Linked DNA regions of Homo sapiens: region 2 is linked to region 1. The links come from fine-mapping of genetic effects on gene expression. A gene starts in region 1. The other region holds a variant in brackets. All regions are shown on one strand. Distances are between the middles of the regions.

What was found. PIP is the estimated chance that this variant, and not a neighbour inherited with it, causes the effect.
Region 2: its variant is the best candidate, but not a certain one, in a credible set for the expression of RBM5 in whole blood (INTERVAL, PIP 0.53).

Annotation. Positions count from the first base shown.
Region 1 is chr3:50,085,390-50,093,723 of GRCh38, forward strand. It overlaps RBM5 (RNA binding motif protein 5), which reads left to right and starts at 3,530. Exons shown (of 25, transcript NM_005778.4): 1 at 3,530-3,640; 2 at 4,993-5,062; 3 at 6,654-6,819; 4 at 8,331-8,334. The coding sequence starts at 5,046. RefSeq lists enhancers at 3,387-3,978, 3,498-3,667, 3,708-3,817, 3,979-4,569.
Region 2 is chr3:49,952,485-49,960,818 of GRCh38, forward strand. All of the region lies in intron 1 of RBM6 (RNA binding motif protein 6), which reads left to right. Among named protein-coding and RNA genes, the nearest start is that of RBM6, 17 kb to the left of the region's middle. The variant C/T (reference allele first, on the strand shown) is at 4,931.

The DNA of each region.
Region 1 (8,334 bases):
CACATCCCAGACGATGGGCGGCCAGGCGGAGACGCTCCTCACTTCCCAGACGGGGTGGCGGCCGGGCAGAGGCTGCAATCTCGGCACTTTGGGAGGCCAAGGCAGGCTGCTGGGAGGTGGAGGTTGTAGCGAGCCGAGATCATGCCACTGCACTCCAGCCTGGGCACCATTGAGCACTGAGTGAACGAGACTCCGTCTGCAATCCCGGCACCTCGGGAGGCCGAGGCTGGCGGATCACTCACGGTTAGGAGCTGGAGACCAGCCCGGCCAACACAGCGAATCCCCGTCTCCACCAAAAAAATACGAAAACCAGTCAGGCGTGGCGGTGCGCACCTGCAATCGCAGGCACTCGGCAAGCTGAGGCAGGAGAATCAGGCAGGGAGGTTGCAGTGAGCCGAGATGGCAGCAGTACTGTCCAGCTTCGGCTCGGCATCAGAGGGAGACCGTGGAAAGAGAGAGAGAGGGAGACCGTGGGGAGAGGGAGAGGGAGAGGGCTAGAAAAGACAATCTTAAAGGACTATCCCTTATTGAACATATGTGGCTTTATTTAAAACAAAGAGCAACTCACTCTGATGTCTTTCTTTTTCTTACATCAGCTACCAGACAGGCCTTTGGCAGCAGAGCTCTGGAGCTCAACAGGCCAATGTCTAAAAGAAGATCAGCTACCAGAGATAATTTGGAGGATGGCACTTACCTATGGATGAAATCCATCTTTTTTTGCCAGGGACCTCTTCAAGTTTAAGAATTATTTTGCAGGCTGGGCATGGTGGCTCACGCTTGTAATCCCAGCACTTTGGGAGGTTGAGGCAGGAGGATCGCTTGAACTCAGGAGTTCGAGACCAGCCAGGGCAACATGGTGAAACTCCATCTCTACCCCAAAAATACAAAAAATTAGTTGGGCATGGTGGTGCACACCTGTGGTCTCAGCTACTCAGGAGGCTGAGGTGGGAGGATCTCTTGACCTGGATAGGTCGAGGTTGCAATGAACCGAGATCATGACATTGCACTCCAACCTGGGTGACAGAGTAAGACCCCGTCTCAAAAAAAAAAAAGATTATTTTGAGGTTTGTGAATAGCTATATAGCTTTTATGACTGGTGGTAAGCCCAGCTCAGCAAGCACCTCAGGAATATCCAAAGGTGCTTGTTGAACTGCTTTGGGGACAAGGCAGGCAACGGCTAGTGGCTATGAAGTCTAGTGAGTTCTAGATTCTTGGCATCTGCATCATCCATTGTAGGGTTTGCAGTGATGTCATCAATGTTAACTTTTAAATTTCATTAATGCATGTACTCTTTTCTGATATTTTGCATATATGCTTCCCCATAAATTGTATATATTTCCTCTCTAAATACACACACACCACATATATTATATTTCTACCTTTTCGTCTATATATGTATTGTGTATATACCTATATATAGATATATACACTGACATCCCTCCACTTATTCTTGAAAGATTTGTTTTCCAGAGAGAGAAGAAAATGGTATAGGCACAGTTTTCTGTAACTGATGTATAACTTTCTGTAACTAATGGTATAGGCACAGTTTTCAATTTGTATGACCTGAAAAATCAGTTCTGGCTGGGTGCGGTGGCTCATGCCTGTAATCCTAGCACTTTGGGAGGCTGAGGCAGGTGGATCACCTGAGGTCAGGAGTTCGAAACCAGCCTGGTCAACATGGTGAAACCCCATCTCTACTAAAAATACAAAAATTAGCTGGGTGTGGTGGCGGGTGCCTGTAATCCCAGCTGTTTGGGAGGCTGAGGCAGGAGAATCACTTGAACCTGGGAGGCAGAGTTTGCAGTGAGTTGAAACTGTGCCATTGCACTCCAGCCTGGGCAACAGGAGCAAAACTCCATCTCAAACAAACAAACAAACAAAAATGTTTGCAAAGCATCTAGGGCAATAATATAGCATCTAGTAAAGCGATCAACTAATGTTCCTCATTTTAATTTATTTTTTATTTTTATTTTTTTTTGAGATAGAGTCTTGCTGTGTTGCACAAGCTGGAGTGCGGTAGAGCAATCTCGGCTCACTGCAACCTCCGCCTCTTGGGTTCAAGCGATTCTCCTACCTCAGCCTCCCAAGTAGCTGGGATTATAGGTGTGCGCCACCACACCCAGCTAATTTTTGTATTTTTAGTAGAGACGGGGTTTAGCCATGTTGGCCAGGCTGGTCTCGAACTCCTGAGCTCAGCTGATCCACCTGCCTCGGCCTCCCACAGTGCTTGGATTACAGGCATGAGCCATCATGCCTGGCCCCTCCTTTTTATTTATTTATTTATTATTATTATTATTATTATTATTATTATTATTATTATTATTATTTTGAGACTGAGTCTTGCTCTGTCACCCAGGCTGGAGTGCAGTGGCACGATCTCAGCTCACTGCAACCTCTGCCTCCCTGGTTCAAGTGATTCTCCTGCCTCAGCCTCCCTAGTAGCTGGAACTACAGGTGCATGCCACCATGCCCGGCTAATTTTTGTATTTTTAGTAGAGACGCGGTTTCACCATATTGGTCAGGCTGGTCTTGAGCTCCTGACCTCGTGATCCACTTGCCTCGGCCTCCCAAAGTGCTGGGATTACAGGCGTGAGCCACTGCGTCCAGCCTTTTTTTTTTTTTTTTTTGAAACAGAGTCTCACTCTGTTGCCCAGGCTGGAGTGCAGTGGCGCAATCTCGGCTCACTGCAAGCTCCGCCTCCCGGGTTCACACCATTCTCCTGCCTCAGCCGCCCAAGTAGCTGGGACTACAGGCGCCCGCCACCATGCCCAGCTAATTTTTTTGTATTTTTAGTAGAGACGGGATTTCACCGTGTTAGCCAGGATGGTCTCGATCTCCTGACCTTGTGATCCGCCCGCCTTGGCCTCCCAAAGTGCTGGGATTACAGGAGTGAGCCACCGCGCCCAGCACCGGCCTCCTTTTTATTTTTTAGCGACAGTTTCTCGCATTGTCCCCAGGCTGGAGTGCTGTGACGAGATCACAGCTCACTGCAGCCTCGACCTCTTGGGCCCAAGCGAACCTCTCACCTCAGCTCCTGAGTAGCTGGGACAAGAGGTGCACGCCACCATGCTCAGTTAATTTTATTTTTTGTAGAGATAGGATCTCACTGTGTTTCCCAGGCTGGTCTCGAACTCCTGGCCTCAAGCGATCCTCCTGCCTCGGCCTCCCAAAATGCTGGCTTGTGAGTGAGCCACCACTTCACGCACGGTCTCCTTTTGAAGTAGAATTAGACAATGTTTTACACCGTGCCAGTGAAAGCAAACTGTACTCTCTACGGCGCTAGTAGCAAAAGCAAAGAATTATTAACATGCCTAATAGGAGCCCTAAAAACTAATCCAGGTCTGCAAAAGCCGATCGACAACTCTGTAGTGATTTAGAAGAGAATTGCAAGACATTAACACAGAGCGTCCTAAGTGACAGGATGGTCTGGCGACCACATTTCCCGGCAGCCCTCGCACAGCCAGGCCGCTTCGAGGATTGGACTTCTCCGCAGGAGGCGGGTGACAGGGGGAGGGGATAAGCGTGAGGTACTGTGGGTAGGAGACGGCCGTCGGCGGAGGCGCCATTTTGTGTAGCCGCCGAACCTTGTTGGAGGTTCTGGGGCGCAGAACCGCTACTGCTGCTTCGGTCTCTCCTTGGGGTAAGTGCGGCGGCTGTCTGTAACGACGGTAGGTTCTTGCCATTTGGGCTGGCCCCCAAGCCTCCCTTGTCAGCTGCCGGAGGCGACTGATCAGCTCCAGCCGGTTCTGTAGAGGGGCTAAATTACCCCAGGCGTTGGAGGGCCGCGCCCTTCCTTGTTGCCAGCTCTGTCAGTTTCCAGAGGGTGTCCAGCCAGCTCAGCCTTGGGCCTGCTTCTTTCTGGCTGTGACTTTGCCCCTTGTGGATACACGTCCCCTAATCTTCAGCCCAACGGAGCAGTGGAGCCGTCGCCTGTCCCTCGGGCACTCCTTGGGAGCTCCCTGGCAGTCTCTGGCCGCCATCCCCCGCTCAACTGCAACTGAATCGCCCTCTCCGAAAAGCTGTTCGGTGATCGCCCATCTGCGGGTTTGGAACCTCTTGGGAGGCGGGAGGGGCATGTGCGGGGAGGGCAGGCCGGACGCTGGAGTCGGTCGAGCAGGCCGTGACGCCGCCATCTCGGCCGCGAGACCCCACGGAGGTGGGTGCCGGCACCGCCCGGGAGACAAGGGGCGGCACCAGTGAATATGCCCCGGGACTTGTTTCCCCCCAGTGGTTCTTTTTCATTTATTAATTTCAACAAATCGTTGAGCATTCGCTCTAGACTAGGCTTCCAGAGACTACTGGAACTGATTTTTCGGACCTCGCGCTCATCGAACGCGGTCCAGCAGTGTGATGTCTTATTACCAACGGGGGGCGGGGGGCCGGGCTGTTCACTACTCAGTGGTTTGTAGTCATAAGAACTGGCTCAAGACGTGGTGGTTATTGTTACCTAGGAATTAGGTCGTTTCTAGCTTTGCTCTTGTCTTATGCGATACGTTATTAATGTAGTAGATTTCAGTCAGCTCAGTATCCCAGCTTCTACGAGGTTTTACATTTTTCATCAGAAGTGTTTGAATTTCATGTTGCTCCTTGTATTAATGAAGACACTTGGATTAATGTTTTAACGGTCAACTATCCCACGGAGTTGCTTTGATACAAAACCAAGGAGCTGATTGTAGCTCTGCCCTTTTTGCTTTGTAATTCTAAGGTAGGAGCAGGGAAGGAGTCTTCTGCTTGCTCCGTATTATGATTCTGTTAAATCTGGAATCTAATATTTTAAAATATGCTTAATCTTCCGGTTTTGCTCATTGTTAACAAAATGTTAGCACGATTTTAACGTTGACAGTTTGTCCCCACCACTTCCCCACCTTAGATAATCACTGTCAATGATTTGAAGGTTTGATGAAATCCCAGCCTCAGTAGTATCCAAGCTATGGAGCTGCTGACTTAAGTGATCTCTGAGATTTATAGCAATTAATCTCTCTTGTCTCCTAGAAAAAATAAAATTTGAACCTTTTGGAGCTGTGTGCTAAATCTTCAGTGGGACAATGGGTTCAGACAAAAGGTAAGTTACTACAGTACGTGGCTTTGATCTCAACATTTCAGTGGGGACTGAACTCCTTGTTTAAAATAGTTTATCAAACTAATATATGAGTGTTTTGCGCCAGGCATTGCTAACGAACACCTTTATGATCCTGTTGTCACAAACTACAGTCTAGTGAGAGAATTAAAGTACTGTGTGAACATGCTGTGATAAAGTGTAGGGTGCTCTTAGAACACATAGGAAGTATGTCTTTTTCTTGTTCACAGCCAGGAAAGCTTCCTGGAGAAAATATTCTCTGGAAGGAAGCTGAAGGATAAGAAAGAATTTTAGGCAAAGAAGGGCAGGGTAGAGTGGGTCACTGAAGGTTCCCTGTGTGGACAGCAACCTTTGCAGAATCCAGGAGATCATACAGTCTGGCACTTAGCACAGTTCCTGGCTGTGGTAAGCAATCAATGAATGCCATTTCTTGTTATTGTTCCCTGAATAGCAAGATGATCCAGACTTAGAGAGCTGAGAAGCTTGGGACTGTGTGTTACATGAAGAAAGAAAGAGCCAAAGAATTAGTGGAAAATTAAGATGAGAGCATTTGGCTATTGTGTCACCTATGGGTACATGCTCTCAGACCATTTGATTTAAACACACACCCTTATTCAGCCATCTGCCTTTTTAGTATTGAGGTCAGTCCCTGTGGTAGATCACATTGACAGGCTGAGGGACCTTAGGAGATGTTCATGTCACATGGTATTTTAATGCTGTGTCAGCAGTCTGTGGTTCTAAATAGCTTACTAAATTAACATTTACCCCTTTGGGGTGTCTCAGTCCCATATTTCCTTTGATTCTTTTTATTAAATTTGTATATTCTAAATGAAGCCCTTATAAACCTTTCCTTTGCCTTATGATTGCACAGCAGTTTTATGAATCTGGTAAACAGTTTACAAAAGGTGTATTTTATCTGTGGTCAAATAGGTTTAAGCCTCTTGTTATTAGGTTTTCCCATGAAGCCCAGTGCTGCCCTTTAGCCAAAAATAAACCAGATGTTATAAGAAGAGTGTTCTCTTAAGGGGTGCTAGTTTTGGGTAACTATCCAGTTGTATCTGACAGACAACTAAGTTGCCTGATGGGGAAAAAAAAGACTAACTTAGTTCATCCAGGTTTTTGGTCCATTTTCCAGTAGGCATGATACCCTTGAGAGTAGATGAGCCAGGGATGTACTTAATTTCACCCTTTAAAATTGGGTGAAATTCGAGTAACTGCTTTCTTCCTGTTTTTGGTCACTAAGATCTGAATCAGGGATGAAGGGATAATATGTAGACTCTAGGCTTGACAAAATGCAAAAATAAACTTGGACAACATGACTCTTTCTTAGAAATATTCAACCCAAATGTTTATTTCAGATTTAGCATACATTCCTGAGAATTATCATTACATTTAGGGATGTAGGTATTTTCCCAGTGGTTATCTTAGTAAACTGGAATTTGGTAATACTTTTTAACACTTTAAACTATTTGGATTATCTTATAAACTGATCTGTGGGCCGTGTGTATTTTTAACTATGTCTTTTAAAGGTACAAAATGTGACTGACTTTAGAATGAAAATTATTTTCCCTGGCAGAGTGAGTAGAACAGAGCGTAGTGGAAGATACGGTTCCATCATAGACAGGGATGACCGTGATGAGCGTGAATCCCGAAGCAGGCGGAGGGACTCAGATTACAAAAGATCTAGTGATGATCGGAGGGGTGATAGATATGATGACTACCGAGACTATGACAGTCCAGAGGTGAGTGACCAGCGGCTGTATAACCCCCCAAAACACTCTGAGCCTTATAGTAATAGAAATAACAGCCAGGCAGCCAGGTCCAGTGGCCCCTTCCCATAATCCTATCACTTTGGGAGGCCAAGGCGGCCAGATCACTTGAGGTCAGGAGTTTAAGACCAGTCTGGCCAACATAGTAAAACCCGTCTCTACTAAAAATACAAAAATTAGCTGAGTGGGGTGGTGGGCGCCTGTAATCCCAGCTACTTGGGAGACTGAGGTAAGAGAATCACTTGAAACCTGGGAGGCGGAGGTTGCAGTGAGCTGAGATTGTATCAGTGCTCTCCAGCATGGGTGACAAAGCAAGACTCCATCTCAAAAAAAAAAAAAAAAGAAAAGAAATAATGGCCAGGGTTTACATAGGGATCACCATGTACTTTTGAGCACTTGACTTCATGAATTCATTTAGGTCTCAGTACAACCTGATAAGGTAGGTGTTATTCCCATTTTAAAGATGAAACAATGGGGTTATGATAACATATTAGTTCTGTGTTTTGAAATGAATGATAAATATAAGTTGTTGGCCAGGCACAGTGGCTCACACCTGTAATCCCAACAATTTGGGAGGCCGAGGCAGGAGGATCCCTTGAGCCCAGGAGTTAGAGGCCAGCCTGGGCACCATAGGGAGACCCTGTCTTTAAAATAATAATAATGAAAAATAATAAATATAAGTTGTTGTTTTGGTCATCTTGATATATCTTTTTTTTTTTTTTTTTTTTTTTTTTTTGAGACAGCTTTTTAGTCTTGTCACCCAGGCTGGAGTGCAGTGGTGCGACCTCAGCTACTCAGGAGGCTGAGGTACGAGAATTGCTTGAGCCTGGGAGGCAGTGGTTGCAGTGAGCTGAGATCATGCCATTGCACTCCAGCATGGACGACAGAGGGAGACTCTGTCTCAAAAAAAAAAAAAACCAGAAGGCCGGCACGGTGGCTTACGCCTGTAATCCCAGCACTTTGGGAGGCCGAGGCGGGCGGATCATGAGGTCAGAAGATTGAGACCATCCTGGCTAACATGGTGAAACCCTGTCTCTACTAAAAATACAAAAAATTAGCTGGGCGTGGTGGCAAGTGCCTATAGTCCCAACTACTCGGGAGGCTGAAGGAGGAGAATTGCTTGAACCCAGGAGGCAGAGGTTGCAGTGAGCAGAGATCATCGCACCACTGCACTCCAGTCTGGGCAATAAGAGTGAAACTGTCTCAAAAAAAAAAAAAAAGAAAACACAGCAGGCTGGGTGTGCCTATAATCCCAGCACTTTGGGAGGCCATAGCAGGAGGGTCATTTGAGGCCAGGAGTTCAGACCAGCCTGGGTAACATAGTGAGACCCCTGTCTCAAAAAAAAAAAATTGCAGTGAACATTACCATGGAGTGCTTGTGTAATCTCTGTACACTTCCTGCTAAGGATAATTTCTAGGAGTGGAGGGTCTGTTTCAAAGAGTACAGGGTGATGTTAATTGTGATTTTGTTTATTGTAACTCAGAGAG
Region 2 (8,334 bases), 130 kb before region 1:
TAGGTTACTTATCCTTTGTTTTTTTTTTTTTTTGAGACGAAGTTTTGCTCTTGTTGCCCAGGCTGGTGTGCAATGGTGCATCTCGACTCAACGCAACCTCTGTCTCCCGGGTTCAAGTGATTCTCCTGCCTCAGCCTCCCGAGTAGCTGGGATTACAGGCATGCATCACCACGCCAGCTAATTTTGTATTTTTAGTAGAGACAGGGTTTCTCCATGTTGGTCAGGCTGGTCTCAAACTCCCGACCTCAGGTGATCCACCTGCCTTGGCCTCCCAAAGTGTTGGGATTACAGGCGTGTGCCACTGCTCCTGGCTTATTTTTCTTTTTGTTACTGAGTTGAAATCATTTTTTATATATTTTAGATACAAGTCACTTACCAAATATGTAATTTGCACAAATTTTCTCCCATTCTGTGGGATGTCTTTTCATTTAAACCAAAAAATTGTAGAGATGGGGGTTTTGCTGTGTTGCCCAGGTTGGTCTTGAACTCCTGGTCTTAAGTGATCCTCTGACCTTGGCCTCAAAAAGTGCTGCGATTATAGGCATGAGCCAATGTGCGCAGCTTACCTTTTCTTCTTTTCTTTTTTTTTGAGGCAGGGTCTTGCTCTGTTGCCCAGGCTGGAGTGCAGTGGTGCAATCATGGCTTACTGCAGGCTGAAACTCCCATGCTCAAGTGATCCTCCCACTTTAGCCTCCTAGGTAACTGGGACCTTAGGGGCGTGCCATCACACCTTGCTAATTTTTTTTTTTTTTTGAGATGGAGTCTTGCCCTGTCGCCCAGGTTGGAGTGCAGTGGAGCGATCTTGGCTCACTGCAAATTCCACCTCCCGGATTCAAGTGATTCTCCTCCCTCAGCCTCCTGAGTAGCTGGGACTACAGGCGTGTGCCACCACGCCCAGCTAATTTTTGTATTCTGAGTAGAGACGGGATTTCACCACATTGGCCAGGCTGGTCTCGATCTCTTGACCTCGTGATCTGCCCGCCTTGGCCTCCCAAAGTGCTGGGATTACAGGTGTGAGTGTGAGCCACCGAACCTGGCCTTTTTTTTTTTTTTTGAGACCGTCTCTGTCACCCAGGCTGGAGTGCAGTAACATGACACAATCTCCGCTCACTGCAACCTCTGCCTTCTGGGTTCAAGTGATCCTTCTGCCACAGCCTCCTGAGTAGCTGGGATTGCAGGCATGTGCTACCACGCCTGGCTAATTTTTGTATTTTTAGTAGAGACGGGGTTTCACCATGTTGGCCTACCTGGTCTTGAATTCCTGACCTCAGATGATCTGCCCGCATCAGCCTCCCAAAGTGCTGGGGTTACAAGCGTGAGCCACCACGCCTAGCTGGACCTGACTAATTAAAAAAAAAATTTTGTAGGCTGGGCAGGGTGGCTCACACCTGTAATCCCAGTACTTTGAGAGGTGGAGGCGGGGTAATCGCCTGAATCAGGAGTTTGAGACCAGCCCGGGCAACATAACGAAACCCTAGGTCTACCAGAAATACACAAAAAAATTAGCCGAGCATGGTAGTGCACATTTGTAGTCCCAGCTACTCAGGAGGCTGAGGTGGGAGGATGGCTGGAGCCAGGGAAGCAGTGGTTACAGTGAGCCGAGAATGTGCCACTGCACTCCCGCTTGGGTGACAGAGTGAGATAAGGTCTCAGAAAAAAAAAAAAAATTTATAGGCCGGGCGCAATGGCTCACGCCTGTAATCCCAGCACTTTGGGAGGACCAGGCGGGCGGATCACAAGGTCAGGAGATCGAGACCACCCTGGCCAACATGGTGAAACCCCGTCTCCACTAAAAAAATACAAAAATTAGCTGGGCGTGGTGGCACGTGCCTGTAGTCCCAGCTACTTGGCAGGCTGAGGCAGAAGAATTGCTTGAACCCTGGAGGCGGAGGTTGCAGTGAGCCGAGATTGCACCATTGCACTCCAGCCTGGGCGACAGAGCGAGACTCCATCTCAAAAAAAAAAAAAAAAAAAATTTGTGAAGACAAGGTCTCAATATTTGCCCAGGATGGTCTGAAACTTCTGGGCTCAAGCCATCCTTCTGCCTCAGCCTCCCAAAGTATTGGAATTACAGGTGTGAGCCACTGTGTCTGGCCTATTTATAGACTCTTAATTCTGTTTCCTTGGTCTGTATGTCTATACTATGTCAGTGCCACACTGTCTTGATTACTGTAGCTTTGTGGTGAGTTTTGGAATTGGGAAGTGTCAGTCCTCTAACTTTGTTGTATATATTCTTTTCTGTTTTGCACAGATATCAGGTTACAAATATTTTGCACACTTTTTTTTTTTTTTGAAATGGAGTCTTACTCTGTCACCCAGGCTGGAGTGCAGTGGCGCGATCTCAGCCCACTGCAAGCTCCGCCTCCCAGGTTCACACCATTCTCCTGCCTCAGCCTCCCCAGCAGCTGGGACTGCAGGCGCACACTGCCATGCCCAGCTAATTTTTTTGTATTTTAAGTAGAGACAGGGTTTCACTGTGTTAGCCAGGATGGCCTCGATCTCCTGACCTCGTGATCCGCCTGCCTAGGCCTCCCAAAGTGCTGGGATTACAGGCGTGAGCCACCGCACCCGGCCTTGCACATGTTTTTAAAACTTAATACATAATAGCTTATCCTGTATCAATTAACATAGCTACTTTATTTATTCTTAGGGCCGCATAGTATTTTTTTTTCTTTCTTTTTTTTTTTTTTTTTTTTTTTTGAGACTGAGTCTCGCTCTGTTGCCCAGGCTGGAGTGCAGTGGTGTGATCTTGGCTTAAGCAACCTCTGCCTCCTGGGATCAAGCCTCGGGATCCTCCTACCTCAACCTCTGCAGTATTTGGGACTACAGACACCTGCTACCACACCCAGTTAATTTTCGTATTTTTTTGTAGAGATAGGGTCTCTATTGATGTGCATTTAGGCTTTATAATATTTATATATATATTTTTTGAAACAAAGTTTTGCTCTTGTTGCCCAGGCTGGAGTGCAGTGGCATGATCTTGGCTCACTGCAACCTTCGCCTCCCAGGTTCAAGTGATTCTCCTGCCTTAGACTCCCGAGTAGCTGGGATTACAGTTTTTAAAAAATGTATCCTAGGCTGGGCGCAGTGGCTCACGCCTGTAATCCCAGCCCTTTGGGAGGCTGAGGCGGGTGGATCACCTGAGGTTTGGAGTTTGAGACCAGCCTGGCCAACATGGTGAAACCTCGTCTGTACTAAAAATACAAAAATTAGCTGGGTGTACTGGCGGGCACCTGTAATCTCAGCTTCTTGGGAGGCTGAGACAGGAGAATCTCTTGAACTTGAGAGGCGGTGGTTGCAGTGAGCCATTGCACTCCAGCCTGGGTGTCAAGCAAAACTCTGTCTCTCTCTCTCTCTGTGTCTCTCTCTCTCTCTCTGTGTGTGTGTGTGTGTGTGTGTGTATATGTATATATATTCTGCCAATATTTTGTGATTAGAGAGTTTAAAGTATTTACATTTAAAGTAATTACTGATAAGGACTTTTGCCATTTTGCTACTACTTTTATGTTTAGCTGATTTTTTTTTTTTTGGTAGTGAAAAAAAATTTTTTTTTTTTGAGAGCATGAGACTGTTGCCTAGGCTTTGGTGAGCAAAATAGTGCAGTGCCACAATCTCAGCTCACTGCAACTTTGGGCTCAAGTGATCCTCCTGTCCCAGTCTCCTGAGTAGCTGGTAGTATAGGTGTGCCACCACCATGCCTGGCTAATTTTTGTATTTTTTGTAGAGATAGGGTTTTGCCATGTTGCCCAGGCTGGTCTCAAACTGGGTTCAAACAATCTACCTGCCTTAGCCTTCCAAAGTGTTGGGATTACAGGCATTAGCCACTTTCTGCCCCCTCCCCCGCTTTTTTTTTTTTTTTTTTTTTTTTGAGACGGAGTTTCACTCTTGTTGCCCAGGCTGGAGTGCAGTGGCATGATTTCAGCTCACTGCAACCTCCGCCTCCCGGGTTCAGGCATTTTCCTGCCTCTGCCTCCCAAGTAGCTGGGATTACAGGCTTGCCACCATGCCTGGCTAATTTTGTATTTTTAATAGAGATGGGGTTTCTCTATGTTGGTCAGGCTGGTCTCGAACTCCTGACCTCAGGTGATCCTCCTGCCTTGGCTTCCCAAAGTGCTGGGATTATAGGCGTAAGCCATCACGCCTGGCCCACGCTTTATTTTTTTATTTTTATTTTTTATTATTTATTTATTTATTTTTTGAGACGGAGTTTCGTTCTTGTTGCCCAGGCTGGAGTGCAATGGCATAATCTCAGCTCACCGCAGCCTCCGCCTCCTGGGTTCAAGTGATTCTCCTGCCTCAGCCTCCTGAGTAGCTGAATTTACAGGCATGCGCCACCATGCCCAGCTAATTTTGTATTTTTAGTAGAGACGGGGTTTCTCCATGTTGGTCAGGCTGGTCTCGAACTCCAGACCTCAGGTGATCCTCCCGCCTCGGCCTCCCAAAGTGCTGGGATTACAGGCGTAAGCCACCAGGCCTGGCCTGCTTTTTTAATTTTTTATTTATTTTTTCTTTTTAAGAGGGAGGGTCTTGCTGTGTTGTCCAGATTGGAGAACAGTGATGAGATCATAGCTCACTGCAGACTTGGATTCCTGGACTCAAGCAATCCTCCCGCTTCATTCTTTGCAAGTAACTGGAAGTGCAGACATGTGCCACCTGCCTTTTTTGTTTTTTAAATTTTTCATAGAGATGGGGTCTTGCTATATTGCCTAGGCTGGTCTCAAACTCCTGGCCTCAAGCAATCGGCTTCCTGAAGTGCTGGGATTACAGATGTTAGCCACTGGCCTGTTGTGAAAATGTTTTGACTTTCTTCTCATTTTCTTTCTTTCTTTTTTTTTTTTTTTGAAGTAGAGAGAGTCTCACTATATGGCCAATGGTGGTTTCAAACCCCTGAGCCCAAGGAATCCTCCTGCCTCAGCCTCCCAGTGCTTGT[C/T]GTGCTAGGACAACAAGCATGAGCCACTGTGCCTAGCCCCTTCTCATTTTCTTTTTCTTTCTAGTGCATAAGCAGGCAACCTTATTTTCTTATGTGTATATTCTAAAGATATGTTCTTTGCAGTTACCATGGGAATTACACTTAACATCTCACAGTTATAATCTAATTTGAATTTATACTAACTTAAGTTCCATAGTATACAAATCTCTGCTCCTATCCAGCTCCTTTCTCTTCCCTTTTCTGTTAAGTCATGGATTACATCTTTGTAAATCGTATCTCAGGAACCTAGATTAATAATTTTTTATGCATCTGTCTTTTAGATCACATTGAAAGTGAAAAGTAGGAGTTACAAAGCAAAATTGCAATAATGCTAGTTTTTACAGTTGCCCCTGTATTTGCCTTTACCAGAGATCTTTCTTTCTTTTTTTTTTTTTTGGGATGGAGTCTCGCTCTTTCGCCCAGGCTGGAGTGCAATGGCGCAATCTCAGCTGACTGTAACCTCTGCCTCCCGGGTTCAAAAGATTTTCTTGCCTCAGGCTCCTGAGTAGCTGGGACTGTAGTTGTACGCCACCACACGTGGCTGATTTTTGTATTTTTAGTAGAGATGGGGTTTTGCCATGTTGGCCAGGCTGGTCTTGAACTCCTGACCTCAGGTGTGAGCCACCGCACCTGGCCGAGATCTTTATTTCTTCACATGGCTTCACGTCTAGCTTTTAAAAATTCATTCTGGGCCGGGCGCAGTGGCTCACGCCTGTAATCCCGACACTTTGGGAGGCTAAGGCGGGCGGATCACGAGGTCAGGAGATCGAGACCATCCTGGTTAACACAGTGAAACCCCGTCTCTACTAAAAACACAAAAGGCCGGGTGCGGTGGCTCACGCCTGTAATCCCAGCACTTTGGGAGGCTGAGGTGGGTGGATCACGAGGTCAGGAGATCGAGACCATCCTGGCTAACATGGTGAAACCCCGTCTCCACTAAAAATACAAAAAACAAAACAAAACAAAAAAAACTATTAGCTGGCATTGCGGTGGGCACCTGTAGTCCCAGCTACTCGGGAGGCTGAGGCAGGAGAATGGCGTCAACCCAGGAGGCGGAGCTTGCAGTGAGCCAAGATCACGCCACTGCACTCCAGCCTGGGAGACAGCAAGACTCTGTCTCAAAAACAAAAAACAAAAAACCACAAAAATTAGCCGGGCGTGGTGGCGGGCGCCTGTAGTCCCAGTTACTCGGGAAGCTGAGGCAGGAGAATGGCATGAACCCAGGAGGTGGAGCTTGCAGTGAGCCGAGATCGCTCAACTGCATTCCAGCCTTGGCAACAGAGCGAGACTCCATTTCAAAAAAAAAAAAAATTCATTCTGAAGAATTCCTTTTTTTTTTTTTTTTTTTGTAAAAATGGAGTCTCACTCTGTTGCCCTGGCTGGAGTGCTGAGTGCCATGGCATGATCTCAGCTCACTGCAACCAACCCCCACTCCAAGTTGAAGCGATACTCCTGCCTCAGCCTCCTGACTAGCTGGGATTAGGGGTGCCTGCTACTGCACCTGGCTAATTTTTGTATTTTTAGTAGAGACGGGTTTCACCATCTTGGCCAGGCTGGTGTCGAACTCCTGACCTCGTGACCAACCCACTTCGGCCTCCCAAAGTGCTGGGATTACAGGCGTGAGCCACTGTGCCCGGACTGAAGAATTCCCTTTTAGCATTTCTTACAAGGTCTGTATAGTGGTAATGAGCCTCCCTCAGCTTTTGTTTATCTGAGAATGTCTTGATTTTTTTCCTTTTTTTTTTTTTTTTTTGAGATGGAGTCTCGCTCTGTCGCCCAGGCTGGAGTGCAGTGGCGTGATCTCAGCTCACTGCAAGCTCCGCCTCCTGGGTTCACACCATTCTCCTGCCTCAGCCTCGTGAGTAGCTGGGACTACAGGTGCCCGCCACCACGCCTGGCTAATTTTTTTTTTTTTTTTTGTATTTTTAGTAGAGACGGGGTTTCACTGTGTTAGCCAGGATGGTCTCAATCTCCTGACCTTGTGATCCGCCCGCCTCGGCCTCCCAAAGTGCTGGGATTACAGGTGTGAGCCGCCTCGCCCGGCCAATGTTTTTCCCTATTTTTTGAAAGACAGTGTTGCCATTTACAGAATTCTTGGTTGGCAATTTATATTTAGGGTTTTTTTTTTTTTTTTTGAGACAGAGTCTTGCTCTGTTGCCCAGGCTGGAGTGCAGTGGTGTGACCTCGGCTCACTGCAACCTCCGCCTCCAGGGTTCAAGTCATTCTCCTGCCTCAGCCTCCCAAGTAGCTGGGACTACAGGTGCCCGCCACTACGCCTGGCTAATTTTTTGTATTTTTAGTAGAGACGGGGTGTCACCATGTTGGCCAGGCTGGTCTCGAACTCCTGACCTCAAGTGATCCACACGCCTCAGCCTCCCAAAGTGCAGGGATTACAGACATGAGCCCCCACGCCCGGCCTAGGTCTTGTATGATCATACATTTTGCCTTGGCATTCATATGGCTTTCTAAATTTCACCATATACATGTTGCTTTGGAATGTCCTAATTTGCCAAAGAGTTTCACCTCAACTTCTGTGGGCATCTATCTGTAATCTCTTGCCCCAAGTGCCTGTTAGTCTGTAGTCTGCTTTGCAGCTTTCATTAGCAATACCTGCTGCTTTCTCTGCCTGAGTTTTGTATTAGGTTGAAATAGAAACATGCACCTTATGTCTGTCCTTCAAATACCCCCGCAGACAGGGTAGAACAGATATGTACGATAATTTGCAAATAAGGTCTGCTTTGCTCTTTGAGGGAGGGAGCTGGGAATTGGGCTTCTACTGCTTTAAGACAAAAAACACTGCCATGCTGGAGAGGGGGTAGGGCAAGGTTGAGTAAAACACCACAGAACTTTCCTTCTGTTTTGAAGATGGCTTTTTCTTCATTGGATATTTGCTTGTAAACCTTTGACTCTTTTCTAAAACTGTCAAATTTGGTTCAGACAGTTACTACTTGTTTTTCTGATGTTTCTATGAAGGAATGAGACCTTGAAACTTCCTAGTCTGCCATTTTGATGACCTATGGGCTGTCTTTGTACTCTCTTGATAGTGTCCTTTGATACACAGAAGTTTTTAATTTTGGTGAAGTCCCTTTATCTACTTTTTCTTTTAAAGTTCCTTGTGCTGTAGGGGTCATATTTAAGAAATCATTGCCAAATCCAAGGTCATGAAGATTTGCCTCTTTTTCAGTAGCTATAACAAAGGTCCTGGAAATAACTTCTTATCTTGACTTGAGTTACATGTCTGTCTTCAAAGCAATGACTGTGGTGAGGGTAATAGATTATTCCGATTGCTCATGCTGGATGGTGTCCGATCAGGTCTGAGACAGTGGGGTTGATACTACAGTGCTGTTTCCAAAAAGGAAGGGCTA